3 separate regions of the Homo sapiens genome follow, and all the other regions are linked to region 3. The links come from fine-mapping of genetic effects on gene expression. A gene starts in region 3. Each other region holds a variant in brackets. All regions are shown on one strand. Distances are between the middles of the regions. Region 1 holds the start of LOC105376380 (a long non-coding RNA gene). Region 2 holds the start of LOC105376381 (a long non-coding RNA gene). Region 3 holds the start of NET1 (neuroepithelial cell transforming 1).

Region 1 (10,789 bases), 140 kb before region 3:
CAGATACACTCACTCTTTGTCCAGGGCAACTGGGAACTGGACGAAGGGCAGGACCTGGGGTTCCTGAGTCTGCTCAGTTACTCAGGAGCAGCCCAGTACCACCCGGGCTCCAGAGAGCCTGTTCCCTCTGAGGGGACGTCGGGGGCCCTCCAGAGGAAGGCGACCTTAGAGGTGCACCTGCCAGATAGGTGGGTGCTCTTCCTGTGCCCTGGCACAGCTTGAGGGTGTGAAGGCAGCCGAGTCTCCTTCCTGGGGACAGTGGCCTCGCCTCTCCCTCCTGGGCAGCAGCTTGCCTCCAGGAAGGTGGCCGAGGGCACCGACTCCTTCCCCAGTGGTGGAGGATTGGGGCTGCAGTCAGGGGTGGGGGCAAATGGCTAAGGAGGCAGCGTGGGGGTGGCGTCCAGCCCTGTGCAGTGCCCTTGCCCCCACCGCTTGCCCTTCTAGCTTCTGGACTAACCCCTGCTGCCTCCGCCCAGGCTCCTCTGGGGGTCAGAGCAAAGAGGACAGGGTGAGGGGACATGGTGCTGCTGGTTCCGGGTGCTGCCTTCACCCTGGGAAGCTGGCGCCAGCTTTCTTGGGTGGGGGCTGCATTTACATAATGGTGAGTTCTCTGGAGGAACACCCCCAGCAGCATACGGGGTCCTCAGCACCACAGCATTCCCTGATGGGCAGATGACCCCTCCGGCCTCTCTGTGCCTCCTGCATCTTCCTGCCGTGGTCACCCTGGCCACCTCCTTCCCGATGAGCCCAGCCCTTCCCCGGCCACCTCCTTCCCGATGAGCCCAGCCCCTCCCCGGCCACCTCCTTCCCGATGAGCCCAGCTCCTCTGCAGCACCCACTCAGCTCCGGGGACCCTTGCGCTCCCCACGACATGCCACAGGGCACACTGTTGAGTGACGCTGGCCGGTTCTCCTGGTTCTGCCCAGAGACCCCCAGGGGCGCTGCTCTCAGGCCTCTTCCCTGGAGCACTGAGCTTCCCGGCCACGTGTCGCACAGCCTCCTGGCAGCCTCAGGGACAGATACCCCTCAGCCAGGCAGCCCAGCGGGGGGTCTCAGGACCTGCTCCCTTGGCTGGTAGTTGGAATGCGGGGGCAAAGAGCAACTCCTTTCCTACCCTTCCCTCGGGGAAAGGGGAAGACATGCCCTGTCCACTCCCAGACCCTCCCAAGGGAAAAGAGGCTGCAAAACACCATTTGGTGAGAGGCCTGGTGGAGCCAGGAGACGCAGGCGCTCAGGGAGAGACAGGCCCCTCCACACCGGGGCCTCCTTCTGGAAACTTAGTTAGAATTTGTCCCTGAATTATAATAAGACAGCCTCTACTTTGAAAAGAAACCGGCTTTGATGTATTGTTTGGCGGCAGCTCCCCAACACTGAGATCTGACGTGCCCCCAGATTCCCTGGGCTCAGAAAACAGGACACGCCGAGGACATAGAAGCCTGGGTGAGCAGACCCCAAGGGAAGCCCCGGTGTTAGAGAGGAACCTCCCTCCGGAAAGACGCCGGGTTCCTCAGAGGGCCGTTTTCATGTGAGATGGGGATGTTTTATTGGGTGCAGTGGCAGGACCAAGGGCTGGGAGCAGGGAACCTCTGGGCTTGCCCTGGAAGCTTCCATATGGGGGCAGCCAGGCAGAAGCCTGTGGGGTGAGTGCTGCATGCCACAGGGGTGGAGGAGTGGGCTCCCTGGAGGAAGATCTCCTGATCCTCAGGCCTCCTCCAGCACCAGGCGCAGAGCTTCCGCCACCAAGGATGTTCCAGCAGAGACCACACAGCCGCGTGGCCTGGACTCGAAGCCATCGAAGTTTTGAATCTCTAAGTCCTTATTTCTTGCCAGCCCAACTATTAATAAATCAAAAGCTCCTTGGAGCGTTGGTTTTTATTTTCTTCTCCCCTAGAACAGTGTGGAAGGAATGAGTGCCTGCTGCCCATGGCCAAGAGACCCCTGACCCCTGGTGATGAGGAAGCTCTTGCTTGTCACTCAGCCCCACATGGTCTGGCATTCACGAGCCCAGTCATCACTTTCTAATCAGGAGATGTCTTATCCTTTTATGGTTTTGTTCCCACCCTTGCGAGGTCAGCTGAGGGTTGACCCTTTGTCTCAGGAAGGTGGCAGGAGCCAGAGAGGAGCAGCCCGAGGTGCTCGGAATTGTACCTGCTCAGGAAGCCAGGCATAGAGTCCACGAAGCTTCACTCCTGAGCCCCTGGGGAGCATTCCTGGCAGCGTCGGCACAGGCAGAACCATGGAAGGAGTCGGCGTCCACCCCGGGACTTGGTGGTACCCAGTCTTCTCCTTGCACACAAATGCCACCGTGCCTGTCATTCAAGTATTGCTTTACCTAAAAGGCTTGAATTTGGAGGGGGAGGCAGGGGACATTTTCATCTCCTAAACAAGGTATTTCTATAGTATAGTCGTTGCTTATCAAAATCACACCTTACTTTTGAAATTTAAAAACATGCAAAAAATATATTTGAGCAGTTCTCCCTTGGAGTAAGGGGATCCCCATTACAAGTGCAAAATCCTCCTTGAGGGGTAGAACCAGCTCATTAACCCCGTCACTCCCTCCGAACCCTTAAGCATGGCTAGTTTGTTAGATTACATACCACAGAATGATCTGGAAAGAAGGATTGCATAACTCGTCAAGGAGAGTGTTGGTTTTGGGCATGGCATGGGGGTGGTGGGTTGGCTGGGAGGGAGATGTGTAGGTCTGAGGTCCCTGAGAAATCCCAGTGTCACAACATGGCTGAGCCCAGGGCATTTAGGAGGCTGTGGGCTAGAGGGCCAGAGTCTTCCAGCTGTGCTTCTCAGAGACCTGGGGGTCGGTGGGAGGTCTTCTCCCATCCCCTCTTCAACTGCAGCTTGGCTGCTTGGCTGTGCTTTATAGACTGGCTTAACTCATGAGAGTCCATCGGAAGGGCTCTTGGCTAAAAAAAAGTGTTGCCAGGTGCCGTGACTCACACCTGTAATCCCAGCACTTCGGGAGGCCAAGGTGGGAGGATTGCTTGAGCCCAGGAGTTTGAGACCAGCATGGGCAACATAGCGAGACCCTGTTGCTACAAAAAATCTAAAAATTAGCCTGGTGTGGTGGTGCAGGCCTGTAGTCCCGGCTACTCAGGAGGCTGAGAGGCAGGAGCATGACTTAAGCTCAGGAGTTCAAGGCTGTGGTGAGCCATGATCATGCCACTGTACTCCAGCCTGTTCAGCGTGCAATGGCACAATCATGGCTCACCACAGCCTGTGCCTGTGACAGAGACTCCAAATCTAAAACATAAAGAAAGGAAAAGAGTGTGAAGCTGCTGATGCAATCCCCTTGTCTCAAGTGATAGACAAGATGTCTGGGGTTCAAGATTGCCGATGTGTCCACGGGCATGGGGTGTTGGTGCAGCCCTGGACCTGGGGCAGGGGGCTGTGTGCAACCAGGCCTGGTCAGCATTGCTGTCGCTACTACTCTTGTGCAACAAGTGGGGACAACACAGCGCAGCACGGAGCGTTTTCTGAGAAAGGCCGGGGGGTCCGGAGTGTGAAAGGACACCTCAGGGCTGGGGCATGGCAGGGAAGGCTCTGGGTGCTGAGTGCTTGCAGTCCAGGGGGCTTCGGAGCTGCTGAGAGAGGACGAGCCTTGGGTGCTTGACAGTTCTGCGGACAGTTCAGAGGCTGCAAACGCTTCCTGACTCCCCAGGACTGGTATTCTAAACTTGGAACTCGCAGTGCGCTCTTGGCGGGCTTCAGAAAGTTCACGAACACCCTGAACTTGTACCAAAACATTATGTGCATGGGCGTTTCTCTGGAACCGCGGTCCAGGGCGAGGGAAGTTTGTGATAATTGCATTTTTGAAGGAGCAAAGGACCCCTGCTGGGGTACGTCACATGGGGACCCAGGGCCCATCCTGTCTGGCCCTTTTCTCTCCACTTCAGCAGGAAAACACACACACACACACACACACACACACGAGTCTTCAAACTTGGAATAGTGATTGCACTGCTAGAATGCTTATTTGTGTGTGCAGGTGTAGCTTTAGAGATGGAGGCAGGGAGAAGGACTATGCATTCTGAGAGAGGGAGGGATTGAGAGAGAGAGAGAGAGTGTGTGTGTGTGTGTGTGTGTGTGTGTGTGTGTGTGTATGTCAGCAGGAATCTGAAAGTACAGCTTGGTGACTGTAAGGGCTGGAGGTGTCGGTGTTTTCTTGCCTGTTCCTTCTCTCTGAACAGAGCTCTCTGTTTGGAAGACCTGTCTTAGCTGTTCCTTCAAAAGTTCTGTGTGTTCTCCTCTGATCTGAGCTGACTTTCGGGGCATGGCTCCAATGGTTTGCCAGCAACTTAGGCCAACGGCAACAGCGGAAACCGAGACAGCTCTGCAAAAATATTTGTTTAATTAGCAGAAACGATCTGTGATCAGAATCCATGTTTAACGACCTGGCTTACAGCCAAGCTCAACACATTTTCCTTCAGGACTGTTTTTGGTGTTGAACTGAGCAAATTCAGCTCTGACCTTCATCCTGGCTGGGGGAGGGGAGACGCCCCACCCTGCTCAGACCCTGGGCTTTTTATTGAAAGGCAGTGCCAGGCACACTCTGATGGGTCTTGGGGGAGACCAAGGGTGCCCTGCTCAATGTCAGCCCTGACTCTGTGCCACGTGCACTCAGCTCTGCCACGGAGGTGCATGGCTCTGTAGACGTGGACGGTGAGCTGGGGAGGAAGGTGGTCTTGGAGAGAAATGCCCCATGGGGAGCTGAGACCTGTGTGTCATGGGATCATCCTGGATTTGGCTTAAAATCCACGTGGCTGTGGAAATCCCAGGGTGCACCGAGGATCTGTGGGGGAGCAGGGGTAAGTCCAGGTGAACCTCGAGCTGTTCTCAGCCCTGAGGTTTGGGTCACTCCGAGAGCACTTGGGTCTCTGCCGAACGGCACAGATCATTCTCAGGCCCTTACAACCATCCGGGTCACTCTAGAATTCCTTTTAGGACTCCTGGGCTGGGCTGTGGCTATTCAGGACTCTGGGTAAGAGCCCTTGGAGTCACCTGGGAGGTAGAATCGCCATTTTCTAGCAGCCATCTTGAATGGCAGATTCCCTGCAGTTCAAGCTGGGGCTGCCCAAGGGGTTCTGGGGGGTCCTGGGTGCCTTCCAGTTGCCCCTCCAGGTGCACCCCCTCCTCCCCCAGGACACTGACCGGCGGGGGCCATCGTGGGGGACCTTGTGCTCTCTGGCTCTGGCTGGCTCAGCCAGTGGGAGCCTGTGGGGCTGGGAGGGAGGAGGGTGTGATGAGGCATCTCCTTCCCGCTGGGCTCCTCCCCACCTCTTTCCTCCTTTTCCAAGTCCCCTGACCATCCCTCCCCTATCTCTCCAGGTCTCTTAAATTACCACGGTGCCAGCTACATGGCCCGGGTGGGTGGTTCCCCACACTGCCTACCCCTTCATACCTCGCCCCATTACACCCTCCTGGAATCATTCTCACTGGAGGCTGCACCGTTTCCTGCTGCCCACGATGAACAAAGCAGGAAACTGTCTTTT[C/G]CAGACTTCCCCACGAAGTGAGGTTTTGACGACCTCATTCTCCAAGAGCAAACCCAGCCCCTGGAGTCCGTTCTTTCCCTGCGCGCGTGGACACCCCTGCAGCAGTGGCTCCTTTTGGTGGCCGCTCTTCAGACACGTGCTAGAGAGCAATCATTGATGACAACGTTTTCTTTCAAAAGGCCCAGAAAACAAAATTAAATCTTGGGACTCGAAGCTTCCTGGGCCTGTGCCACGAAGGCCCATGCTTAGCCGGTCTGGTGCCAGGCTCTGTGACGTGTGGAAACCAGGCCCACCGACCACACAGCAGTGGCTGAGGATGGCTCCCTCCTCGGCTACTCTCTGAAATGGTAGAGGCCACTCTCATGGCTGAGTGGTCTCCGCCGTTCTGCAGAGGTGTGGATAAGAACAGGAGTTCCTGCTTGTCTCCTAGGGGTCCGTATTGAACGTTGGCAATCAGTGGAAATCCTGTCTCAGGCCCTCTCGGGGCCCCACACTGATCATTGTATTTAAATCCTCCCAGTGTCCTGCAGACACCTACCTCCCAGACCAAAGAGGGACCTTGCTGGTGGCCAGGAAACAAGCTGAAGCACAGAGAGGAGAGAAAGAGACAGAGTTGGGTCCTCGGGTCACCTTAAAAGGCTGTGAGACTTTTTGCCAGGGCAGGGCCTGGCGGGTGGTGGAGATGCAGGATGAAGGACTTAAGGAGGGATCTTTTACTTTCAGTGTGAAAGTGACCTGTGTTTTTATGAGGGGGCTAGAGAAATACTCAGAATCTGAGAGCAGGCAGTTGGAGTGGGATCTCAGCAAACTTCCGTGTCTGCATGGTCCTGCAACCATCGCCCTGGACAGAGGTCTCAGCTGGGTAGAGATGGACGGTTGTCAGGGCACAGCCTGTCCTTAGGGGGTGCTAGGAATGGGGATTGGGGTGAAGAGGAGTTCAGGAAAGAGGGGTGAGGCATGGGGAACCTGCTGGCTTAGAGGATGCAAAGGGGCAGGTTTTATGGACGCTTTATGCAGGTCCCTTTCATAAAGATACTTGCCCAGCCTGAGCAGAAACCCACACCCTAGAGTTTGTTTCTTCCCTGTGGGCACCCCCCGCCCCCGCAGCAGCGGCTTCTTTCAGTGGCAGAGGCTGACTCTTTTTGCAGCTTCTCCAGCACTTGCAAATGCAACTTCCTTGCACCCACTTCAGACACTTTACAGCTGGAACCCCTTCCTTCAAGGTTAGGGGCCCAGGCCCACAGCCCCTACCTCCAAGTTTCCACGTTTGAAGAATCCCAACCTTTTCCCTTTGCCTCCTCAGCCTCAGGGGTGACACCTCAGAGCTCCTGTTTACCTCTTTAGCCACCAGGTTAGTAATTTTACACCCATGCAAGTGTGTACAGGAATCTTCCGGATCCAAGTGGCTGGTGTGGGCGTTGTCTTCTGTCTGAACCCTGGCCCTTGTCTGTGCAGATTCCTCCCCTCCTGTCCGGGAGAGAAGAGACAGTTTCGATGTCATGTGGAGACAGGAGGCTGTGGTCAACGAGGGGAGGCTGTGGTCAACGAGGGGAGGCTGTGGTGGGGGGTGGCGTTCTGAGTCACTTGGCTGGCTTGGGAATGTGAGCTGGGCCAGGTGCACCTTAGAGAGCCTGGGTGGTGCTGGGGACCTTCAGGCTCTGGAGTCCTGGGTGACCCTGACAGGTGCATGTACCCACATCTCCTTGGCCCCTGTCTCTGTTGCTAATGTCCCTGCACAGACCCCCCCCAGCCGTCATTTACAGATTCCCAGCAGTGAAGCACACGGGCTTAGGTTAAAATCACTGAGCCCCTTGCACAGCGGCCTTCTGGTCCCCTCTGCTGTAAGGCAGGACCACCTGTCAGCCCCTGTCTTCTGGGGACCCCACTAGGCCTAAGAGATGAGGCTGTGGGGTTCTGTCTTCTGGAGGCCCCACTAGGCCTAAGAGATGAGGCCGGCGGCGGAGGTCTGGCCTGGAAGAGAAATGTGGTGAGTCACCCCAGGCCTGACAGATTCACTCAGACCTGGTCCTTCTGCTCCTAGGCTGAGCCATCTCTCAGGGACCCTCCTGCCCTCCTTCACCTCTCACCTGGCCTGCCCCAACCAGTTCTCCAGGCAAGCCCAAACCAGTTCCACCTGGTTTGTGACTGTGTTTGGAAAGAGGGTCTTTGCCGAGGTAATTAAGTTAAAATGAGGTCATGTGAGTGGGCCCTGAGCCAGTCTGATGGGTGTCCTTACAGGAAGACATTAGGACTCCCAGAGGGTGACTCCAGGGGCAGGTGGCTTGGAGGACTGGCCGTGCAAGGAGGCAGCAAAGGGGCGGCCATCTGCAAGCTGAGGGCAGAGGCCTTGGAGGAAGCAGCCCTGCCAGTGCTGGTAACTGTGAGTGCATCTGTCTCTGTTGGTCAAGCCGGCAGCCTGGGGCATTTTGCTGAGGCCGCCCCAGCCGCCTAGCATAGTCGCCAATAAGTCCCCGAGGTTCTGGTGTGCTCTCTGGACTAGTTTCCTGGGGTGGCTGCAACAAATTGCCACAAACACAGTGGTTTAAACCACGCAAATGTCGCTCCCGCAGCCTGCAGGTCGGAAGTCCAAACCAAGGTGCTGGAAGGGCTGGTTCCTTCCGGACCCTTCAGGGGAGAATCTTTCTGCCTCTTTGGCTTCTTGAGGCCCCTTCCTGGCATTGCTTCTTTCTCCACTGACTCCTACCATCAGCGCTGAGTCCTGCCTGCCTCTTATAAGGTACTTCTTTCTCCACTGACTCTTACCATCAGCGCTGAGTCCTGCCTGCCTCTTATAAGGCGCTTCTGGGATGACTCCTGGTGCACCCAATAATCCAGGGTCATCTCTCCAGATCCAGGTTCATAACCCAATCACCCCCACAAAGGGAGGTCACGTGTTCCCAAGCTCCAGGGATCAGGAGGAGGGCATCTTTGGGGGTGATACTATGCAGCTGACCACAGCCTCTCTCCACCTGGGCTCCCACACCCACCCTATTCTGCAGATCTTCAGAGGCCACCTGGGATGTCAGAAGCTTCCAGGAACCAGGAGGTAGCTGCATCTCCTGTCCCTTCCCTGAGTCACCTTGCTGGACTCCACAGTGTGGTGCAGACAAGAAGCTGCAGGGGACAACATGGAAGGAAGCGGGGATGGAGGAGATGGAATGGGATGGGCTCTGGGCCCGGCCAAGCAGAGCAGGATAGGGCTGAGAGTCATCTGAGCACAGGTGGTTCAAATGGCAGAGAAGCTCCACGCTGGAGCGGGGAAGAGCTTGGGCTTTCCGGCCAGAAAGCGCAGGTTTTGGCCACGGCTCTTCTGCCACTCACTAGATGTGGGAGTTTGGAGGCGTTACCCGAGCTCTGAGCCTTACTTTCCTCATCTGAAAAATGGGAATAATGGTAGGGTTAAATTAAACCAAATTTGGTCTGAGGATGCCTCTGCACTTTGAGTCCAACTGCGACCTTAGCAGCAAATGAACTGCAGGCCTAGCTTAGGAGTGTACTTTTGTAAGAAATAGCCGAGTCTTAGCCAATCACAGCAGCTGAGCTTCTATAAATCGCAGGTGGCTGCTGAGTAGTCCATGTTCAAACACGGCAAACCAAGCTGTGACCAATGAGCTGTCTCTGCAGCTCACTTCCATTTTCTGTCTATAAACACTCCCTGCCCACACTGTGGAGTGGAGCTCAGCCCTTGGAACCTCTTCTGGTCTGAGGGCTGCCCACTTCATGAATCCTTTGCTTAATTAAACTCAATTCATTTCAAATGAAACTCAATTGATTGCTAGATTAATTTAAATTTAATTCGTCTAAAGTTTTCTTTTAACAGTTCCTACCTTGTTGAGTTGTCGTGGGAATCAAGTGGAAATTTCTTTTTCACATGGAAAGGGCTTAGCATAGCCTGGCACGTGCTGAGTGTTCAGTGCACACTGGTTATGATGATCACAGTTAGTGTCTCCATCTTTGGTCTGTTCAGCGCTACAGTGTTTGGGGGCCAGCTAGGCAGTGCTGCAGCTGCAGCTCTGTGTGTGTGTGTGTGTGTGTGTGTGTGTGTGTGTGTGTGTGTGTGGAGGGGGCTGTGAGATTGGCGGGCTCAGGAGAAGATGACTACTAGCTGTTGCCAAAGTTTCTTTTCTGCAAGGGAAAGCCACAAGTCACTGGCTCCAATGTGGACTTTTAAAAGGCCTTCCTTCCTTTCTCTCTTACTTCTGGGGAGCCCATGGATAGGAAATGGCACTAAACTGACTTCATCTCTGTACCCTGATGCCTCCATCGCCCTCAGAGTTTACGCCCTCGATGAATCACTTAGAGTGAACTGGGAGCTGTGTATGAGGTGACGTCACCCTGAGATAGAGCTCTGTGGTCACTGGGAGGTGGCTGTGTGCGTTATCTCCCTGTGGCATGCCAGGAGGCGTGTGTGTGTGCACGAGTGTGTGTGTGCATGCATGTGCATGTGTGTCTTTGTGTGTGTGCAAGTGTGTGTATGTGTGTGGATAAGGGAGAGGGAGGGAGGGAGCTGGGCTGTCTCCCCTTCCCCACAAGTGGACCCTGCAGCTCAGAGCCGGAGGTGTGAGCTGAGTTTGGCGTTTGTATGTTGCTTGAGTTGGAATTTGAACTCACAGGGGACAGGAAAGGATGCCTGTCCCCAGGACTGACTAACGACATCAGGCCTGGCTATTGAACTTCCTGCTCTGCAGATCCTGGGTTCTGGGAGGATGAGGAAAGGATGAGCGAAGGCTGGGGGATCTCTGGGGTGGGGGTGGACTCAGTGAGTGGAAAGAGTAAAGGTGTTGGGGGTGGACTCCCTGTCTGTGTGACCGCTGGCAAAGTCCTTGACCTCGGCCAGTCTGCGTTTCCTGATCCAGGCAGTGGGGACATGGTCCTTTCCCTCAGAGGGGTGGTGAGGATTCAATGAACTCCTTTAGGTAGAGCTTGCTCAGGAGCATCAGCTGTAACACCTGTCCTGGAAGGTTGCTAGGTGCCCTCACCCTTTGTTCTGTGCCCACCTCTCTCCACCCCCTCTTCAGCCCGGATCCAGACGAGGCCTGGGGAAAGTCTCCCAGAAAGCGCCCTGACCAGGGCGGTGCCAGCTGGGTTCCTGTTTGCCTAAACCCAAGCAGCAAGCTCTTCAAAGGAACCTAACAAACCGGACAGAGAGCTTTGTTTTTTTCCTCACAGCAAAGGAGACAGAAAAGTTTGCTGAGTAAGTCAGACACCATTAAACTCACAAAAAGGCTCTTTGTTCCGGCCTGAGAGGGGGTGAAAAAAATAAGCGAAGTGGTCGAAGGGCGTGT
Region 2 (10,789 bases), 150 kb before region 3:
AGCCAGCCTGGCTGTGGCGCTGCCTGGGCTGGTGGATGCCAAGTCTGTGCCTGGACATCAAAACAATGCAGCCTCCCTCTTACCTCATCTCTCCGCCTTTGTGGCGGACAGCTCACGGCCCACTCTGTGCTGGAGAGGGCAAAGCTTCACCTCTGGCGCATGTGCCCCTCCTTCAAGTGTCTCCCCGTCGTGCCGGGTTCCCAGGCAGCTCTCCTCGCAGACCACGGATTTTCCACCAGGCCTTGCCTGAGATTCCACACCTGGGCTCATCGTCAGATTCACCTGGTGGGCTTCTCGGAAGTATCTGCTTCTTGTTTGGTCCCTCAAGAATATTTCCAAAGGTTTCGGGGGAGCCTAGAGATCTGTTTTTTTGAGAGTGTCCTGGGGGATCCTGGCAGCAAACCAGGCTGTAAGATGCATGTCCCAAGCCAGGCTCCCCAAATGCACATTTTGCTGGGCTGCCGTTCTCTTGTGAAATGTTTCCCAGAAACTTTGCCTGCAAAATCTTCCTTTCCTGGAGATTTGTGATCACAGTGACACACTGAGGGACTGATGAGCCTTTACAACAGATAGCTGTTGTCTAAAGGTAAACACACTCTTTTGAGAGAAGATAATTTTTTTTCCTGGCATCACAATGGTTTTTTCTAGGACTAGAGAGGAAAGTCTTACTCCAGATGTTTTCTTACTTCTTCCCTCTTTTCCATAGACACATACCTACCTTGTGCCCATTCTTTCCACGGGTGTCATGGAATCATAAGGGAAAAATGACTGGAGAAATGAATCCTGTGCCATTCATTAACTCATTAGTGAGTTCTCACCTCCCAGGAAAGATAGTTCTGTGATCCAGTTTAAATATTTACATTTCCATGATGCTTTTTAATCGAGGATCTTAACTTTAGAAATATCAGACTTTATGACAGATGGAGAAGGGATTTGGGGGGGACTATGAGCTTTTGAGAGCAAAATTTATTAATTCATTCAACCAGCCAACAACCAATCAACGAACCAACCACACACCAACCACACACTCATTCACTCACCCACCCACCAGCCAACCAACAAATCACCAACTGCCTATAAACCACTAACCATCCAAGCAATCAACCACCAACCAGCCAACCAAGCACTCACCTACCTACCAACAAACCAACCAACCACTCACCCACCTACCAACCAACCAACCAACCACTCACCCACCTACCAACCAACCAACTAATCAACCACCAACCAACCAATTAGCCAATCACCAACCAACCAGTCAAGCACCAACCAACCACCAACTAACCAACCAACCAAAAACCACTTACCCACCAACCAGTCAGCCAACAAACCACCCGCTAACCAACCAACTACTTACCCACCAATGAATCAACACTTTATATTAAATAAGGTGCCTTTAAACAGAAACATACATAAAACAAAGTTATATATGGATTGGTTGACAAAAATGCTATGGTCAGGGCTGGTAGGAACATACCCCATATTTCTCCTGGGAACAATGGTTCAGCATAATTGTCTCTTGGTATCCTTGGGGGATTTGTTCCAGGACCATCTGCGGATACGAGAATCCAAAGATATGCAAGGCCCTGATATAAAATGGCATAGTGTTTGCATATAATCTATGCACACCCTCCTGTATACTTTAAATCATTTCTAGATTACTTATAACACCTAATACAATGTAAATACCATGTAAATAGTTGTTATACTATATTGTTTAGGGAATAATGGCAAGAAGTAAAATAGACATGTTTAGTACAGATGTAACCATCATAGGCCTAATTACATTATCAATCCAGGGTTGGTTGAATCTGAGGTTTTGGAATCCATGGATTCGGAGAGCTGACTGTATTTGCTAATTCACTGTTCTTGGTGACTTTAGAGAACAGAAGTACTGAGAATGACAAGCATTGACTGTACTTTGTCTAATACTGAGAATGAAGGAGAATAAATGAGAATTCAGGAAGCATAAAACAAATTAGTTTACAAAGTCTGAGATAAGCTGGCATTTACTGATGATTTGCTTAGATACAGATCTCCCGGCCCTTAAACGTTAACTACAGTTCACAACCGTGTTGCCTGAGCCCCTAGTTGTTCTCCCTTCTAGCTTCTCTCCATAATTTGGGAGGAATTTGACACTTTTGTGGTCAAAAGCAAGAGAAACTGAGACCCTCTCTGAGGTTCACTGATAATTTTATTCTGTTTTTAAAAATAAGGCCAAGATATAATAAAGTGCACAAATCTATACAGTTTGATGGACTTTTGTGTATGTATACAAGCATGAAATCATCCCTTGAACCAAGGTTTAGGGCATTCCTCCTTAGATTGTTGTAGGTCTGAGAGACACACCTCCTTATACCTGGTGTATTCATCAGAAATGATCCCATGTGACCTTCGGAGAGATATCGCCTCCTATAGCCACAGCAAGGATGTGGTTTTTGTCTTCAGGCTCATTAAGAAGTCCATATATTGATAAAATATATAACATTCACATCATAAAACAAAACAAACCATGCAGATGGATAGGAAAAGAAGGGGTATTGCCTTAAACTATGGTGGAAGACAACATTGTTATTTATTAGTTAATGAGCTGATTCTTTGAAAATGATTAACTTCTAGAATATAGATGTTGAACAAGGTAGCATTCCTCCTTATCACTGAGCAAATATTTGTGGATGGCTATTTGGATGCTAATAAAATGTATTGAGATCAATACCTTCTTCATAATTTTTGGCTCGTAAACATTTTGTTCATATCCTGGAGACTCATGTGTGCAGCACGTGTTTTTCACTGGATGTAGCAAAGCTTGTGGGGTGGCTTTCCTTCATAATTGTCTTCTGTGGATTTATGGTCAGCTTTTGTTTCAACAAAATCAACTACCAAAGAAGCTTGTGACCATGAGTTTGTGAGAAATCTTCAAATTCATTTTTGTTATAGGTGGTATTTAGTAGGTTTTTGTTCGTTTGTTTGTTTGTTTGTTTGAGACGGGTCTGGCTGTGTCACCCAGGCTGGAGTAGAGTGGCGCATTCTAGGCCCACTGCAACCTCCGTCTCCCTGGTTCAAACAATTCTGCTTCAGCCTCCTGAGTAGCTGGGATTACAGGCACATGCCATCATACCCAGCTAATTTTTGCATTTTTAGTGGAGACAGGGTTTCACCACGTTGGCCAGGCTGGTCTCGAACTCCTGACCTCAGGTGATCCACCCATCTCGGCCTCCCAAAGTGCTGGGATTATGGTGTGAGCCACAGCACCCAGCCTTTTTCTGAGAAAAAAAGATAGATATGTAATAATCTTGCATGATAGGTTTTTTGTTCTGTAGGGTTCTCTGGCAGCCCCTGTTTTATCCATTGGACCAACTGTCTGTAAAGGCAGGTAACTTACTTACTTCTTTCTCCTGGAGAAGGACTTTTTGCCCTAACCGAAGCACACTAGTCACAGAGTTGTCCTAGTGACAAAGACACAAATTGAAGCTGCACTCAGTACTCATGGCTGATCAAGGGAAGTGAGCTCATCTCACCTTGACTCACAGCGATGACAGGTTCAAGCCCCTGCATGTGGGCCCGTTCCTCAGAGGATGTTTGCAATGGGGGTGGGGGTTGCCATGGTGATGCCCAGTCAACAGAATGGAGAAAAGAGAAATTTGGTTTGAAATGAAATTTGAGTCTTGAGAGAGGGCTGATATGAAGGAGAATCAAACAAGCCACATGGGAGCATCTGAAGGCCTGGAGATAAGGGCCTGTTGCATGGCTGTGAAAATTTGGCCTTTAAAATAACTAGGCATGGGCCAGAAATCACAGCCGGCGGCTGCGACCACCCAAGTGAGTCAAAGGGAGCTGGATGAGAAGGTGGGGGGCACGCCTGGGTTAGGGTCCTTGACAGTTTTGTCCAGATTGGGTTTGAGTGTGGGGTGTCCTCATGGGACTCTGGTGAGTTGGGGGTGGGAAAGGCGGTTGACTCCTTGGGGGCTGGTCACCACTCAACAGCTGTTCTCCAGTGGCACTTTATGAAGCAATGTTAGCAATGGGAGCTCCCCTGCCAAGATGTGGGTGGTCGGTACCCAGTGGCTTTCAAAGCCAGCAACCCAGGGATCTCACAGAAGTCCATCAGCCTGAAGGCAGGCACGTGGGAGATGACTAAAACCAGGTGATGTAGGCAAGAGGTACCCTCAGAACGCCCTCGAGTTGCCCCATTGTTCTTTTCTGTGCTGCCTGTGTGTGCAGCCGCTGAGCTCCTTGTGTTTTCGGGAGGTGGAGTATGCACCCCTGTGGGCTCATCCATCCTCGCCCTCATCATCCTCCCTGGCACCGTGCAGACTCTGAGCTTCTGCCCGCCCCACCCAGGTGTCTCATCCCACCTGCCTCGGGGAGCCTGGCTGAACAGCAGGCACCACCCTGAGCCACCCCTTCCCAGCCAGAGCAGCTCCGGTCGGAGGCTTCCTCCCAACAGGCGGGCTTCTTAAGCCTCCTTAATCTGCACGGAGGAAATTCAGAAATCCAGTCATCCTGAAACCATCTTCCTTCGGGGCAGGACAGAACCCGTGTGTGTGGGTAGATGAGTGTGGATGGTGGGGGTGGGAGGCACATTTGTCATCGTGCTCAGCCCAGAACTTCCCAGATGTTCAGGCCAATCAGGGTGAACCCTTGAACTTCCCTGGGCCTCTGATGCCCGGCTAGTGCCTCAAAAAGCCTCATCCGCGGGTGCTTAAAAAAAAAGACTTGAGGCTTCTTTACAGACACAGCTCATTCTAGAAATCTTCCAGCCCCAACATCACCAAAGGCGAAGAGAAGAAGGAAACTCACTATTCTAGCAGTCCCTGGGCCAAGAGCCTGTTAAGCCATTTTACGAGCCGTCCCCTAAAACATGACAATTCTGCCAGGCAGGTGTGGCAGAAGCGGGGCTATGTCTTTCCCAGAACACTGCAGCTTCAGCATGTCCTGCTTGCAGCCGGGGCCCCTGGGAGTGATGCTGGAGGACACCACCTCCAGGCTGCCCCAGAAACCTCCTGCCCAATACTCACACCGTCTCTCTTCATCTGTTGACCACTTTAGGGCAGGAGATCCAGCGGGGGACTATGGAGCTCAGTGGAGCTGCGGCCTGGGAGAAGCCCACCCAAGAGAACCATGTAACTAGAAACCATCACATTCGGCTTCGTGTGAGGGAGAAGCAGGTGTTTCATTGCACGCAGTTACTGAGATCTGGGGTTGTTTGTTATTGCAGCAAGGACCCACCCTAACACACGAGGTGTTATATGCATTTTACAGATTGCCAAGATGGTACAGACAGCAGAAGTGGCAAAACAACACTTAAACTCAAACCTGCCCAACTTCAAAGTCCACGCCCTTCCCTGGGCTTCAGACTGCCGTCTTTGATGCTATCTTTCATTGAGATGTTGTTTGCATTAAATGGGGGATCTTGCGGCACACGGTGGACCTTGCCCAGCACCCACTCTTCCTAGGGCCAGCCTTACTCTGTGGGGTCAGCCTTTGACCGTCTGGGCC[A/G]TGAAGGTGGCTGATGAGGCCCCTTCGACAGCCAAGTTGGGGCACAATCTCCTCCGGATGTTGTTATTCCTTCACAGTCTCATCGCAGGCGGGGAGGAAGTCAGAGGGCTGATTTAGAGGACAGAGATACAAACAGAGTGAGCAGAGGATGTTTGGCTGCAGTTGCTCCAGAGTTTCAAGGGAGAAAACACAAGCATTGCTGAGCGGCCATTAGGGGCTTGCACGCTCAGCTGGGCACATGTCCACACCGAGGCATCACGTGCGGTCTGAGCTGAGCTCTCATCTCTGGGTTTCAGGACTTTCAGCACAGTCCTGGCCCTTCACGTTTAGTCTGGGTGATCAGGGATGTAAACCAGCAATTGCAAGGTGGTGAAGCACCACCGTGGAAGGGCACCAGCCGGGCCCTGGGGTCACAGAAGTGCCCCAGGAAGTGTGGCCGTTAAGCCTGGTGAGAGGAGAGCGAGCCGGGAGGACGGTGAGAGACAGGCATGACGGGGCGGTGAGTGTGACTGCTGCTGAGCATGTCTGAGACGGCAGGCAGTCACCAAAGGCTTGTAAGCAGAGGCAACACCCTGACTTGTGGTTTGGAGAGATCATGGTGACTGCCGTGCAGGGACGGAATGGAGGCTGCTCCAGTGACTCTGGCCGTGGGCAGTGGTGGGCGGGTGAGGGGACAGAGGAAAGTGGATGGAGTTGCTGCCCCCACAACCCTGCTGAGAAAGTGCCCACGGGACCTGGCGGGGTGTGAGTCACACTTGGGCTGCTCTGCCTGGCTCTGCACCTATTTCGTGAGCTGGAAGGGACAGCCTGAGCCCCGTCCCTTGGATGGACATCAATGCAGGAGTAAGGGTCTGTCTCTGAAGCTCTCTGAGCAACGGAAGGGAAGGTGCCCACTGGGCTCAATGCAGAGATATTGGGGCTGATGTGGCAGGAGGGGTGGGTGTGCAGGCCCGGCGGGGAAGGAGACTTCCAAACAGACGGGCTGCCCCACGGGGAATCTGGCTGGGGCCAGTCATTCTCAGAGTCAAACCATCTTCATTCAACTCCGAGGCTGCCCCAGGCCAGTAGCGTCCTTCCTGAGAGCGCTTCCTGCGAGATTTATGAGGCAGGGGCCAGGCCTGGATCGTAGAAAGCTAGAGAATGCCTTGGCTGCCCAGGGAAGTCTGGAATTTCTTCCAAACCAAGCTTCCAGACGTCCCTCTGGACTCCTCTGTCTGAGAATGGGCACTTTAAAGGCCCAGGAGAGAACTCCCATGACACCGTTTTCCAACCTCCCATCTCCCCTCCCCGGCAGCTCCCCATTTCCGGCATCTCGGCTTGGCAGGACCCCTCCAGGACCTCACTCCTCTGAGACGCACTGCAGACCTCACAGGTGACAGCAGCGTTTTGCTGACTCAGAGGCAACTACCACGATGACCCTCCAGCCCGTGTCCAGACCTGGGGCAGCGACTTGGACAGGGGGCTGCAGAAGTGGGTCTGTGAGGGGGACCTGACGGGGGGCTGCAGAAGTGGGTCTGTGAGGCGGACCTGGGGGGGCAGCCCTGGGGTGGGCTCACTGGGGTTCACTCCACCTCGAAGACTTCAATTCCAGCTCTGGCTGGTTTTGTTGGATTAGGAACACACAGCCAGCCAAATCTTGGTTACTAGGGTGCCAGAGATCACGTGGAGAAATGAAATAAAGAGAGAACCCCCAAACGGTGGTGCTGCCATGCATTGGAGCCTCTCGCCCCAACAGCATTCTTACTTTATTTATTTATTTCTCATCCACATTTTGCTGGAAGATTTTGCGCATTCATAATGGCAAACAGAATATGGCGATAAGCTTCTGTGTACACTATCATCAACAGCTTTCAATTCCTAATTAACCTTATTTTATCAATATTCCCCATAATCCCCCATGCTGTTTCTTGGCAAATCTAGATGACCCACCATTCCAGCCTTAAAAATTTCAGTGTATAACTGACCAAAGCTTTTTATTAGAATTGCTAGGTAGGGAGGAAATTTAAGTTTCTATGACTATGCCTAGTAAAGTTTGAAAAGAAGACAACGGGGGAAATAGACATTGACAATTCATATTGAATAATTGCACAGAGACAGTTCCTTTGTTTGAGGCTAAACCGAGACAGAGCCTCAGATACCCTCACTCACTCCTCTCTGGCTGAGAGGGGAGGAATTTTCGTCTGGGTCAGGGAGCAATGAGGTGGGAGTTTTGTGCTTCGGTTCTGGGGTGGAGATGGAAGGTCATAGGTAGCAGTCCAGTAACTGGCCCCATAAATGGTTCTGTGAGGCAGAAGCAGCTGCTTTGTGGAGGACTTGTGAGACTCTGAGGGAGGAGGAGGGAGGGCTCACGCACACCAAGGCGGCCCCCATTGTTTGGGTTTTGGGAACCCTGGGAGACAGTGGCCGTGGTCTCTGGTTCCCCTCACTGGGGCTCCAGGAGCAGTGGCCATGTTCAGACCAGAACAAAGGGGTCAGGACCAAGAGGATAAAGAGATACAGGCATGGCTGCTGGTGGGACCTGGTGGTCTGACAACAGAACACCACAAGACATCCCTCAGGGACCGTGTGTCCTTTAGAGACACTTCCCTCCACAGGGATGTGGCCATCAGATGTCTGTCCAACCCGAGAGCTAGCTGTGCAATGGGCCCAGTGTGGAGGTATAGCCAGTGGGAGGGCTGGAGCCATGGTCGGGAGTGGAGGGGTTGCCTGCAGTGCCTGTGGACGGGAGGGGCACCAGGAGAGGAGGGTCTGGAGGGGGACACCAGGAGAGGGGGATCTGGGGGGAGATACCAGGAGAGGGGGATCTGGGGGTATACCAGGAGAGGAGGATGGCGGGGGACACCAGGAGAGGGGGACCTGGGTTTTACCAGGAGAGGGGTACCTGGGAGGATACCAGGAGAGTGCACCTGAGTGGGACACCAGGAGGTGGAGACCTGTAGGGGGAATGCCAGGCGAAGGGGACCTGGAGGGTAACACCAGGAGAGGAGGACGGGGGTGGGGGGACGCAAGGAGAGGGGCAGGGCTTGGAGTCACTCTGCCATCTTGGGCTCCTCAACTTTGGGATGCCAGCTCAGCCTTTCTGAGACTGGGTTTCCTCATCTGTAAAATAGAGGGATCTCCCCACAGAGCGTTTGTGAGGATTAAAGGATCAATTCCAGAAAAAGGCTCAAAGCAACGCCTGTCCCGCGCCCGGCCCACAGTGAAGCTGGGCGTCGTTACTCCTGCTGTGGTCACTGGTGGTGTGAGGACCGCAGCACAGGGCAGGAGGGACACGGCCCACAGGGCGTCCGGCCTCCTTGGCACCTGCTCCAGGGCCCTTCCCGTCACCTCCTGGCTCCTCCGTGCACGTCTTGCTCCAGCGCTGCGTGGCCGCCTGTCCCCATTGCTCCGGAGCCCTTTACATTCATTTCTCCTCACCTGGGACCCTCTTCCTCCCCTCTCTGCAGTGGAGGCTCCCAGCCTTGTCCAAGGGCTTCCTGGGAAGTCACTTTCCCTCCGAAGCATCTCATGCACCCTCCGGGCACCCTCACCCCTCCAGAGGTCCTGTGGCTCCCCAACTAGTGGGTGACACTGTCCTATTGCTGGACGCCATGGCTTCGAGGGCCTGTGTTACCCTTGGGCAGGGCCTTTAGTCCTGCAGGCTTGGACTCTGTCTTATTCATCCAGCCCCTGCATGCCTGGCATGGGCCAGGGCCTGGGCTGGGGGCTCAGGAGATGTAGTTGGATCTGAATGCTGGGTTGGAGAATTCTGTAAACACATAGGATGCAGGGTGAGTGGCCGTATGGGACATGAGCAAAGTCCTCTGGGAACCTGAGGCGCAAACTCTGAGTTCATTTTCACACCCTCCATGGTGCACACTGCCATATACCAGCAGGTGCCCCCAAACGCACAGCTGAATGACAGAGAGAAGTCAACCCGTGCAGGCTTCATCTGACTGTCTCCAGACGACTGGGTCCCTGGCCCTGGGCGAGCCCCTCCCGGAGGGTCTCCCTGCATTCTCTGCCAGGTCTGGGCCCAGGACCATCCTCTGGGGGATGGGTGTGTTGACTGCTGGCTGTAGAGTGTGGCCTGTATCTGCCCCTCTCTGGGTCCCACCCTTCTGGGACTGTCTCAGATTTGAGGAAAGGAAGATGGATGTTGTCTGGTCCGGTCCGTGCCTCACCGTAAGGTGTCGTGTTGTGCTTTTGGCCACTGAAGATTTTCCCTGGTCTCTGGAGCTCCAGCCAAGCTCTCTGAGCGCCAATATCATGTTTCCGTTTTCCCGCTGTTCTCAACAAGCAGCTATGGATTGACTGGTTGATCGCAAGGCTGTTTTAAACAAAATAGAATATATTTCTTTCAAGAAGTCCAAAGCTCTCAGAAGAGCATTTCCAACTTATTTCCAATAATCTCTAATCTCTGAACAATGTCAACCCATCACTCCTAGATCTTTCAGGCACTCCCCATCCCCCCACGCTGACCCTTTCCTGTCTCACACACACTGTCTGGAGATAAAACTGTGGGGGGCGGAGGTCTGGGAAAGAGAGAGAGACACATACACACAGAGAGTCAGAAAGAGAGATCAGAGAGACAGAGAGACAGAGACAGAGACAGAAAGAGTTAGTGAGATCAGAGACAGAGATTCAGAGAGATCAGAGAGAGAGTCAGAGAGACAGAGACAAGAGAGAGGGACTCAAATATGTTTCAGACAAGAACCTGAAGCAATTGAGTCAAAGTTCTGCAAAAAAAAAAACCCACGAAATTTAATTTTAGATGGAAAAAAAATGACGAACCCCTTTGAGGCCTGCCTGTTAGTTTTGGTTGTGTGTCATTGTTTAAATATTCTTTGCATTTCCCCTCGCCAAAGACTCTAGTTAAATTAGAGCCAGCTTAAAGCACGCTTTATTTATGGCCGTGCCTACCCCCAAGCCTCGGGGTTGTTTTGAGCCAGCAGGGAAGGTGTACTTAATATAGAGCAGGAGGGTATGTGTGCAATGTTCTTTGAATGATGATTGCAAGGTGCACAGAGAAGATTTGACTTTATTTAGACATTCGGTTTCTTCACAGTCTCCTCTCTGGAAGGGCTCTTGGCTTCCTCTCCAGACAGCATGTGTGTGGTAAGGAAAAAGCCTGCATGTGGAGGTCTGTGGGAGGAGGTGTGACTGCAGGATCGGGGTAAAAGATTTTCATTATGAGGGAGGGTGCGTCACCCACACTAGGAATTCCCAGGAGGTGCAGTTTGATTAAATATTTGTATGGTCCAGGTTACCCTCAGCTACCCCGATAGTGGGTGCTCCCCGAGGCAGTGTG
Region 3 (10,789 bases):
TTTCCCCTTAAGATCAGAAACAAGACAAGAATTTCCCGTCTCTCCACTTCTGTTCAGCGTTGTACAGGAGGCCCTACCCAGGGCAATTAGGAAAGAGAAAAAAGTAAAGGGCATCCAGAGATTGGAAAAAGAAGTAAAACTATTTTTATTTGCTGATGACATGACCCTGTACACAGAAAGTCCTAAAGAAACCACTAAAAAACTATTAGAACTAATGAGCTCAGCAAGGTAGCAGGATCCAAGATCGATATACAAAAATCAATTGTATGTATTCCTATACAATTGAAATTATTAAACTGAAAATAAAGTGATACAAAGCGGGGCAGGGAAGTGCTGCGTAGAGGAGAGCGTGGTCCCTTGCTAGGGCTCCATCCCCAGGCCTGGGCCCACGGACCTAAGTGAGGATAGGCATTTCTGTTTTCCTACCCAAATGTTGCATTTCCCAAGACCACCCTGGCTCACCACACCCCCATCCTGTGCCTATAAAAGCACGCCCCCACCTGTGCCTATAAAAACCCCCCGAGACCCTAGCAGGCAGACACACAGGTGGCTGGATGTCAAGAGGAACACATCGACGTGGGAGTACACCAGCACGCTGGCAGGCCAGCTGGCAGGCCATCGATTCGCAGAATGACGCAGAGCTTGGCCAGGGAGGTTGGAGGAGAATCGGGCAACCTGACACCAGGGCAAAACCATTTCCCTTCTGGCTCCCCCATCTGCTGAGAGCTACTTCCACTCTATAAAAGCTTGCAATCATTATCCAAGCCAACGTGTCATCTGATTGTTCCAGTACATCAAGGCAAGAACCCTGGGATACAGAAGGCCCCCTGTCCTTGAAATAAGGCAGGGGTCTAACTGAGCTGATGAATACAAGCCGCCTACGGATGGCTAAACTAAGAGTACCCTGTAACACAAGCCCACTGAGGCTTCAGCTGTAAACATTCACCCATAGACATGGCTATGGGGTTGGAGCCCCACAGCCTGCCTATCTATATGTTCCCCTAGAGGTTTGAACAGCAGGGCACCGAAGAAGCGAGCACACCTCCAGTGCACGCCCTGCGAGGGGGAAAAGGGAACTTTTCCCATTTCAAAAGAAATGAATCCATTTACAACTGCATCAAAAAGAACAAAATACTTAGGAATAAATTTAGCAAAACATGCAGAACTATACTCTGAAAACTACAAAACACTGTTGAAAATAATTAAAGATCTAAATAATTGGAAAAACATCCCTTGTCCATGGATCAGACTACTTAACTCTCTGTAGAGGGCAATACTCCTGAAAATGATCTACAAGATTTAATGCAATCTCTATCAGAATCCCTGTGGACTCCTTTGTAAAAATCGATTAAGCTGATTCTAAAATTCACATAGAATTGCAGGAGACCCAGGATAGCCACAACAATCTTGGGAAAAAAAGAACAAAGTAGGAGGACTCACATATCCCAATTTCAAAACTTACTATACAAAGCAACGGTAATCAAAACACCATGGTAATGGCATAGGGCTATTACATATAGATCAAGAGAATAAAAGTCAAAGTCTAAAAATAAACTCTCATGCTTAAGGTCAACTGATTTTTGACAAGGGTGCTAAGACTACTCAGTGGGAGAAAGAACAGTCTTCAAAAAATGGTGCTGGGGTACCTGGATAGACACATGAAAAAGAATTAAGTTGGACCGTCATCTCACATTATATACAAAAACTAACTCAAAATGGATTAAAGACCCAAATATAAAAGCTAAAATGATAAAATTCTCAGAAGAAAGCACTGGGGAAAGGATTCATAACAATGGATTTAGCAGTGATTTCTTGGATGTGACACCAAAACACAGGCAACAAAAGCAAAAATAGACAAGTAGGACTACAAACTAAAACATTTTTGTGCTTCGAAGCACATCATGAAAGTGAAAAGACAAACCACAGAATAAGAGAAAATATTTGCAAATAATCTATCTGATAAGGGACTTGTATCCAGAATAAAGAACTCTTAACAACTCAATAAAAAAGAAATTTAAAAATGAACAGGGCCAGGTGCGGTGGCTCACGCCTGTAATCCCAGCACTTTGGGAGGCCGAGGCAGGCAAATCACAAGGTCAGGAGTTCAAGACCAGCCTAGCCAACATGGTGAAACCCTGTCTTTACTAAAAATACAAAAAATTAGCCACACGTGGTGACACATGCCTGTAGTTCCAGCTACTTGGTAGGCTGAGGCAGGAGAATCACTTGAACCCGGGAGGCGGAGGTTGCAGTGAGCCGAGATCATGCCACTGTACTCCAGCCCCGGTGACAGACTGAGACTCCGTCTCAAAAGAAAAAAAAAAAAGAGCAAAGGATGGCCCACCAAAAATGGCCACACACATTACATAAATCCATTCATATGCAATGTCCAGAACAGAGAAATTCCTACAGACCGACAGATTAGGTTTTAGGGCAGAAGGGGTAGGAGAGGAACAATAGCTAAAGGGTACAAATGCTCTTTTTGAGGTGATGAAAATGTTCTAAGTAGTACAATTTAAGTGGGTAAATTGTACTGTACGTATTTGTCTTTCAAATTAGTTTATACTGAGTTTTGCCTGCAGAACGTTTTTCAATAGTCACATAATCATACACACAAATCTTTTTCCTTATGATTTCTGAATCTGATACAGTGCTTAGTTGCTTCTTGCCTCACAATTAATACTATCTTGTAATATTTTACGTATTCTTGTAGATGATCTTACATCTTTTCTGGAAAAGGAATATGTTATTTAATTCTCCATTTTCTCTCCATGGTTCTTCTAACTGTGTCTCACTCTCCTCATGCTGCCTGTGTTACTACGCTTTTCTCACAATGTATCATTTCCTACCTCACACAAAAAATAGAGGCCTGGTGGGAAAGTCCTCAAATTCCTGCTCACAACACACCCCATTCTTCAAAACTATATATCATCCATAGCTTCTTGTTAGGCTAAATCCTCTACCTTGAATTTGGATTCTGTCCTTTTCTGCCTTCTTGGATCCTTGTTCAACCATTTTTCTCCTCTACTGTCTGTTCAACCTCTCCCTCTATTTGTTAACTCAGCACAGCACATCAAGGGAATTTATTCTTTCTTAAGAGTCTATCCCACAAAATTGTGTTATTTCTCTCTATTCTTTCTTGTCTTCCTGTTGCAGTGAAACTTCTCTTCACCAATCCCATTGCCAGCTATCAGATTCGAACAATCATTTTTTCATTTAGACTACTGCAGACTGATTTCCTACCAATCCATCAGCTAAACTTGGAAATTTTAATTTGGTATACACAGCTGGGTCCACAAATCTCCTGAAATGTTTATGTATATGTGCACATTTTTGGGGAATAGTTTTCATAAAATATGAAGAGTGAGATGACTCCAAAATGTTGCTTATTTTTCTCATGGAAGGCAAACTGATCTTTTAAAATGCAAATATGTCATGCCATTGGCTCATTTAAAGTCTTTCAGTATTTCCCCATTACCATGAAGATAAAACCCAAACTCTGTCAAGGCATACAAGGTCTCTTCATGATGTGGCGCTTACCTCTTTAGCATCATCTCTCATGACTACCTCCTCCTTCTCCCCATATTGGTTTCCTCTCCTCTATACAAATATCACTGTTAATATAGTAATAAAATAGAATATATACCCAGAACTCATCAGACTCATTTGCTTCAGGGCCTTTCTACATGCTTCTCTGCCTGAAATCATCCATTTACATCTGCTCTCTAAACTGGTCCTTAAAGACTCAGGGATTACAATAGGAAATCATTTCCTATTCTCTCCAGTCAGGATTAAGTGTTCCTTTTAATCTACGGCATTCTGTGTATATCACTATAATAACTTTTATCACATATTATAATAATTATTAACCTACTTATCTTTCTTCCCCACTAGATTATAAATCTTAAATAGTAACAAGAGTATTTTTCCATTTCCATATTCCTAGTGTTGGCACTCACATTATTTTCTGAACAAATCGCACATTCTCTTCTCAACCTGTTGCAAAACACTCTAAGTTCGATATTGTAACCATTCTTGGAAACCATCTAAGATCAATACTCTCTTCTCATTACCAAATTTAATTTTCATTCCTCATCTAGCTTAATCCTCATCTTATTTTACTTAATCCTCATTTTATTTGACCTATCAATAACATCTGACATAGCTCGCCACGTCCTCTTCTTGAAATTCTTTCTTCATTTGGCCTCCTGGATACTGTTCTCACTTGGTTCCCTTCCTCCTAATTCACTAGCTATCCCCTGAGCTTCGCTTTGTGAAATTTCACTGAGCCAAACACGAGTCATACACTCTCATTTCAATGTATACTTCCACAAAAAGTAAAAAGAAAAAACACGAAAATGGTTGTGATGAACTCTCTAATAGGCATCTCATAACATATCCCGAAGTCAACTTATCCCTTAGTCTTTTCTTTCTCAGGACATGGAAGCCCATTCTCGTGGTGCTCACCATGACAGTTTCGGTCTGAGCAAAGGCATTTGGGAACGCCAGCCTACAGCCAGTTGGGTGTGCAGAACAAAACCATTGTGGTTTTTCCTAAGTCTCCCCTGAGAAACAGTCAGGAGGCGAGGAGACTCAATAAACCCGCCCCTTTGCCACAGGCAGGGAAAATCGCAGTTTGGGGTCTCAGGACCGACCTCGGTCCAAGGCCAGGCACACTGTCACTCCAGCCTGTGCCACCCTCACTTCCAGCGGCCCCCGTCCCCCCCCCCAACCCCGCGGTCACCTCCCCCACCCCCCACTCACCTCCCAGCGGCCCTCGCCTCCCCCTGGCCCTCACCAACACCCCCACTCGCCGCCCCCCACATCCAACTCCCGGCCAGCCCTCCCCTCCCCCCGGCCCTTGCCTCTCCAACACTCACCTCCCGTTCGGCCCTCCGCTCCCCTACACTCACCTCCCGTTCGGCCCTCCCCTCCCCCACACTCACCTCCCGTCCAGCTCCGACCCGGAGGTGTCGGCCGAAGGCCCCGTCGCTCCCTCCGTGCTGAGCCCAGAGGCCCGGCGGCTTCGCCTCCGCGGTCGAGGCTGCTTCTGAGCCGCCAGCTCGGGCTCCATGGCACGGAGGAGGGGGTGGGGCGGTGGCCGGGTGCCCGGGAGACCGGCAGGGACGGGCACGATGCCCGCCAGCCTCTGCCAGGCAGAAAGCGCCTGTCAGCGGACTGCAGCCGCCACCGCCGTCATCCGGGGATTTGAAAATGGCGGCTGAGCAGCGATCAGCCAATCAGTGAGCGCGCAGCGGTTCCTAGGAGACGTGGAGTCCCGCCCCTCCACCGCTCCCGGGATCTACTTGCCTAGGAAAGAACCTAGGAAAATTTGCCCTTAACTCCTGAGCGCATCCCTGAGTCCCTAAGGCCCGGTACCTCCTTCATTGTTCATTAGGACTTTCACTACAGGCCAAGGCAAATGGACTGGAAGCATTTTAATTCACCAGATCTTTCTTAGCATTTGAGGAGAAGAGAGGTCCAAACTAATGACCTGTAAACAAGGCATGTTTATTGGCCATATTCACACTGAATTATTGTGCACGTGGCCAATATGAGATATATTTCCAATTACCAAAGGTTATGCAAGTGTGTTCCCGGGACTGTCTCTAGGGAACCAGCAAAATCTAATTATGAGCCCTTATGTCTTCCAATAAGCATGACACAGTCTCTCCCTAGCAAAACAGAATGAAGTGACTTCATCCTTTGCTTGTAAAAGTCAGCAAAAGACATAATATAAAATAAAAGACCGCTTCAAGTAAAAAAAAAATTGTTAAACAAATTACACTTTCTTTGATTTTAAATATTGCTTTATATGTGTCAAAGTCTTTAAAAATAGCTTCTCCTGACCGGGCGCTGTGGCTCACGCCTGTAATCCCAGCACTTTGGGAGGCTGAGGCAGGCGGATCACGAGATCAGGAGATCAAGACCATCCTGGCCAACATGGTGAAACCCTGTCGCTACTAAAATACAAAACTTAGCTGGGCAGAGTGGCGCATGCCTGTAATCCCAGCTACTCAGGAGGCTGAGGCAGGAGAATTAGTTGAACCAGAGAGTCGGAGCTTGAATTGAGCCAAGACCGTGCCACTGCACTCCAGCCCAGTGACAGAGCGAGACTCCGTCTCCAAAAAAAAAAAAACAAAAAAACACTTCTCTTTTGCCAGTATATTTCCACTTATGGAAATTTATCCTAAAAAATAAAATTATATAAACATGAAGCTATTAATGACATTGTTTATAATAGAAACATTTAAAACAACCTAAATAAACAATGATTTATAGCTCATCCACTGAGAAGAATATTTTCAGCCAACAAAAATGAAGTGTGAAGTATGTAATAGTATACTGGTAATTTGAAATAAAAACATGAAGTATAGAGGTATATTCAGTATATTCAAAGTTATGAATTACAAGAGATTATACAAAGAAAAAAGATAATGTATTAAAATGTATTAAATGTATTAAAAAGTCAATGTATTAAAATGTCTCTAGGTAGACTTTAGGTATTCAAAATTTTTATTTTTATTTTTTGCATTTAATTTTTTTAAAAATAAGGACATATTGAATTTGCAGTACCTTTATAACATGAGGGAAAAATGTTTTTGTTTTAAAAAGAGTAAGAAATTAGGGAGTAACATTGAGATGTGAAGCCAGCTAGACTTCCTGGGTAGAGTGGGGACTTGGAGAACTTTTCTGTCTGGCAAGAGGATTGTAAAACACACCAATCAGTGCTCTGTAGCTAGCAAGAGGATTGTAAAATGCACCAATCAGTGCTCTGTAAAAAGCACCAATCAGCAGGACCCTAAAAGTAGCCAATCACAGGGAGGATTGAAAAAAGGGCACTCTGATAGGACAAAAATGGAACATGGGAGGGCACATATAAGGGAATAAAACCTGGCCACCCCAGCCAGCAGGGCAACCCACTGGGGTCCCCTTCCACACTGTGGAAGCTTTAGTTCTTTCACTCTTTACAATAAATCTTGCTGCTGCTCACTCTTTAGGTCTGTGCCACCTTTAAGAGCTGTAACACTCACCATGAAGGTCCATGGCTTCATTCTTGAAGTCAGCGAGACCATGAACCCACCGGAAGGAACCAGCTCTGAACATAAGTTGACCTTGGTCAAGAACCACTTCTGTTCTACCTTCCCCATCCCTCCCCAAAAATTAAAGAAGAAAGTACTGCTTTGTAGCAGTTAGAGTGTAAGAATACAGAAATGTTCTTAATATTTGGGGAGTTGGTCTCCACCAAGACAGAGCTTCAGAGGATGCAGATGTTTAGATTATGAACAAAAATAAACCTGTAAGAGCAATTCTTCAAGTCAGGTCCCAAGTAGGTCACAACTACTCTGTGTCCAGAAAACTCACACCCCTTTGGGATTTTCACAATTTACCCGAATTGACCAATCAGGGCTCACCTGATGTAACCGATCAGAACTCATCTGCTTTATCCAATCAGGGTTCAGCTGTATTACCCAATCTGAACTGAGCAAGTCTGAATCTTTCCTTTGCATAAACACATCTGATTGGAAACCTGGACAAGAACTTTTTCTATAGAAGCCAAACCCTCCCCTTTATTCTCTGGAATCACCTTTCTTTTACTCCGAAGGCTGTGTCTCCCTGGTTTGCAAACTGTTCACTAGAATAAAGTCTCCTTTCTCCAAACTTCCTTTTCAGAGAACTTTTGTTCACAAGATAGGACCATGTGAATCGCTGACGCTTGGTCTTTTTACCCACAGAAACAGCCGTTTCATATTAATAGTTTCAACATACTTCGGTGAGATCCTCAGAATTCAGGGTCTGTCCTCAGCTTTGCAGGTCCTGAAACTGGTTTTGATTGTGTCATCAGAGGTGGTCAGTCCTTTGGTAACTTGTAATAACTACTCACAAAATGATAGATACTGCAGGATGTCAATGTGGGGATTCCAGTGGTGGGGGTGGGCACTTCTTTCCAGTGACCTGAATACTATTGTTTTATGCAGAGCAACTGTTTCCAATTTTCATTCACTTGAGAACTTATGATTTTGTTCAATTATTCACAAGAATTTATTAAATTCCTGCTATAATATGCCAGGATCTGTGCTAGACATTAGGGAAATAAGGAATAGAAGACAAATTTTCATCAGAAAATGGCTGGGTACCATAGAAGAAGAGCAAAGAAAAGTGACCGCTCTGAGGGTTGGTCATTGAAGACCTGGGAAAGGCTGGTGACATCTCTTGATCTTACAAGAGATCAACTTTCTGGTGTCTGAATGCCATTGTCCCCATGTTCTATGTCTTACACTGTATAGAACAGTCCCAAAACCATGACAAATGTTCTCTGAATCCTCTCTCTTTCAGTTCCCCACAAATCATCCTTCTCCCTTAAAATATTCACCGGGATAGGGTTTGAGGAAATTGTTTTGATTTCAGCTTTCATATATATAAAATCAGACTCTAGAACTCCCTCTCTGAGAAGATATTCCTACTAACTTGACTAGAGCAAAGTGTAACCCAAACTTTTTCAACCATGGATTTGCAAAACAAATATTCTTTTGGGGAACTTCCTCAAAGATTATTTCCAAAACCTTCAGCCCTATGTGATGACACCAATCATTTTGCAAGTTGATATTAAATAAATTCAACAATCAATAAATGAATGTAAATTATTATGTAAATCAATAATTTAAAAACCTATTTTCTTTCATTATCTAAGTAAATCAAACTATTTTTGCAAAACTGCTTACCAAGTTTTATATATATATATATATATATATGTATATATTAGAGTACAAAGTGTTCATCAAAACACTTTATTAATTTCCAAATTATTTGATGATTTTGATGTGATATTTTGTTTGCCATTGCTATCACTAGCTAAATGATTCCCCTTTGGTCTGTAGGCTCCCATAGAAAAATGTAGCAAATTTGCAAACAATGACCTACCATTAGAAAACTAGTAGTCTTAATAACTAGAGAATTGCCCTTTGCATCAACGTTTTTCTTTTTTGTCTGAATCTTCTCATAGCTTCTCATGAACTAACAGCAATTACATTCAGGAGAATGAATGTCTGTATGTGTGCATATACATATAATTTATATATAGAATGTTATAATAAAGTCTGAAATTTTTAAAAATATATTTACTATATCTACTATTGATTAATTTACAAAACTGTTTATTAGACTGTAATTTTTAATTGGGTCAAACTTAATTGTTCCTGCCAAATGAAAGGGAGTGTAGTCCAACAGCTAAGTATGTGGACTGCATTGATTGTCATTCTGACAAGCAGAAGTGTACTTATAGGCACAATAGGGCAGAATATTTGAAATCAGGTTTGTCATCCCTTAAAATCTATCACTGTGTGTGTATGTGTGATGTGGGGGGAGGTTGTTTCATTTTTTGCCTCAATCAGTCAATCAATCAATCAATCATCTATGAATCATTTGTTTACCATATTGGTTTACTCTTAGGTATTCCAATGAGGAAAATGGAAAACTCCAAAATCTAGCTGTTGAGCTTAGAGAACAATAAAATTTGAGATGAAATATGTGTGGCCAGAGAAGGTGCTATTAATCCAAAGTAGACTGTAATTCATTTTTCTTAACGCTTAGACTATCTTCCTAAAGACATTGCAGGTCTAAAAGACTGATTTATATTAGTAGTAGGAGAGGAGAACAGAGGAGGAAGGAGAAAGGGGTTTCAGTGCAATGGTAGGGGCCAGAGAGAATGGCAAAGGACAGTGATCTGGCTGTGGTTGTGAGGCTGCCAACAGAGAATTACCAAAGAGAACTTCAGAAATGTCAGAATGTCAATCAGAATTATTGCTCAGAGTTGAATAATTTTTTTTTTTTGTAACAAATTTTCATGCTTAGAAGGTTTTGTTTGTCTCATTACTTGGCCAGTGAATTGACTGGCTCACAATGAAAAATACTTAAGAAAGGAACTTTTTTTTTTTTTTGAGATGGAGTTTTGCTCTTGTTGCCCAGGCTGGAGTGCAATGGCGTGACCTTGGTTCACTGTAACCTCCGCCTCCAGGGTTCAAGTGATTCTCCTGCTTCAGCCTCCAGAGTAGCTGGTATTACAGGTGCCTGCCACCACACCCGGCTAATTTTTTGTATTTTTAGTAGAGATGGGGTTTCACCACATTGGCCAGGCTGGTCTTGAACTCCTGACCTCAGGTGATCTGCCCACCTTGGCCTCCCAAAGTGCTGCGATTACAGGCATGAGCCACTGTGCCTGGCCAAGAAAGGAACTTTGAACAAGGACATCGTAACTATAAATACCACACTTTTATCACTCTGCCATTTTTTCACCCTCAGAACCTAAGGGTGGCCACCAAGTATGTCAGAGTCAGTATTGTGTGTGTGATTTATTTTAAGGAATAAGTTAGTGTGATTGTGGGGCTGTAAAGTCTGGAATCAGTAGGGCAGGCTGGCAGACTGGCAGGCTGGAAACTCCTGAGTAACAGCTAAAGCTGAAACTAAAGGTGCCATCCTTAGGAGAAATTTCTTCCTCAGAGAAATCTCCATTTTACTCTTATGGTCTTTCAACTGATTGGATGAGGCCCACTCACATTATTGAGGATGATGTCCTTTACTTAAAGTCAAAGTTTACTGGAGATGTTCACCACACCTCCACAATGCCTGCACAGCAATACCCAGACTAGTGTTAGATTGGATAACTGGGTGCCACAGCCTAGCCAAGTTGACACAAAAACTATCACCCCAGAAGGCCTCTTCAGACGTGAAATTCCAATTATTATCACTTGAGGAAACTTTTTTCTTTAAGACTTAGTCTTTCAAAGAAATA

What was found.
Region 1: its variant is fine-mapped to the expression of NET1 in whole blood (TOPMed, PIP above 0.99). The same link has a PIP of 0.9 or more in T cells and blood mononuclear cells.
Region 2: its variant is fine-mapped to the expression of NET1 in whole blood (TOPMed, PIP above 0.99).

The regions. Positions count from the first base shown.
Region 1 is chr10:5,548,096-5,558,884 of GRCh38, reverse strand. It overlaps LOC105376380 (a long non-coding RNA gene), which reads left to right and starts at 6,808. Exons shown (of 4, transcript XR_930611.3): 1 at 6,808-6,855; 2 at 7,743-7,884; 3 at 8,075-8,241; 4 at 8,504-9,267. RefSeq lists a silencer at 812-1,134 and enhancers at 4,338-4,860, 4,861-5,384. The variant C/G (reference allele first, on the strand shown) is at 5,505.
Region 2 is chr10:5,559,566-5,570,354 of GRCh38, reverse strand. It overlaps LOC105376381 (a long non-coding RNA gene), which reads left to right and starts at 3,474. Exons shown (of 2, transcript XR_001747274.2): 1 at 3,474-3,819; 2 at 5,050-7,194. RefSeq lists a silencer at 6,185-6,411 and an enhancer at 9,124-9,625. The variant A/G (reference allele first, on the strand shown) is at 5,500.
Region 3 is chr10:5,406,978-5,417,766 of GRCh38, reverse strand. NET1 (neuroepithelial cell transforming 1) reads right to left here and starts at 5,210. Exons shown (of 12, transcript NM_001047160.3): 1 at 4,947-5,210. The coding sequence starts at 5,074. RefSeq lists a silencer at 4,869-5,298.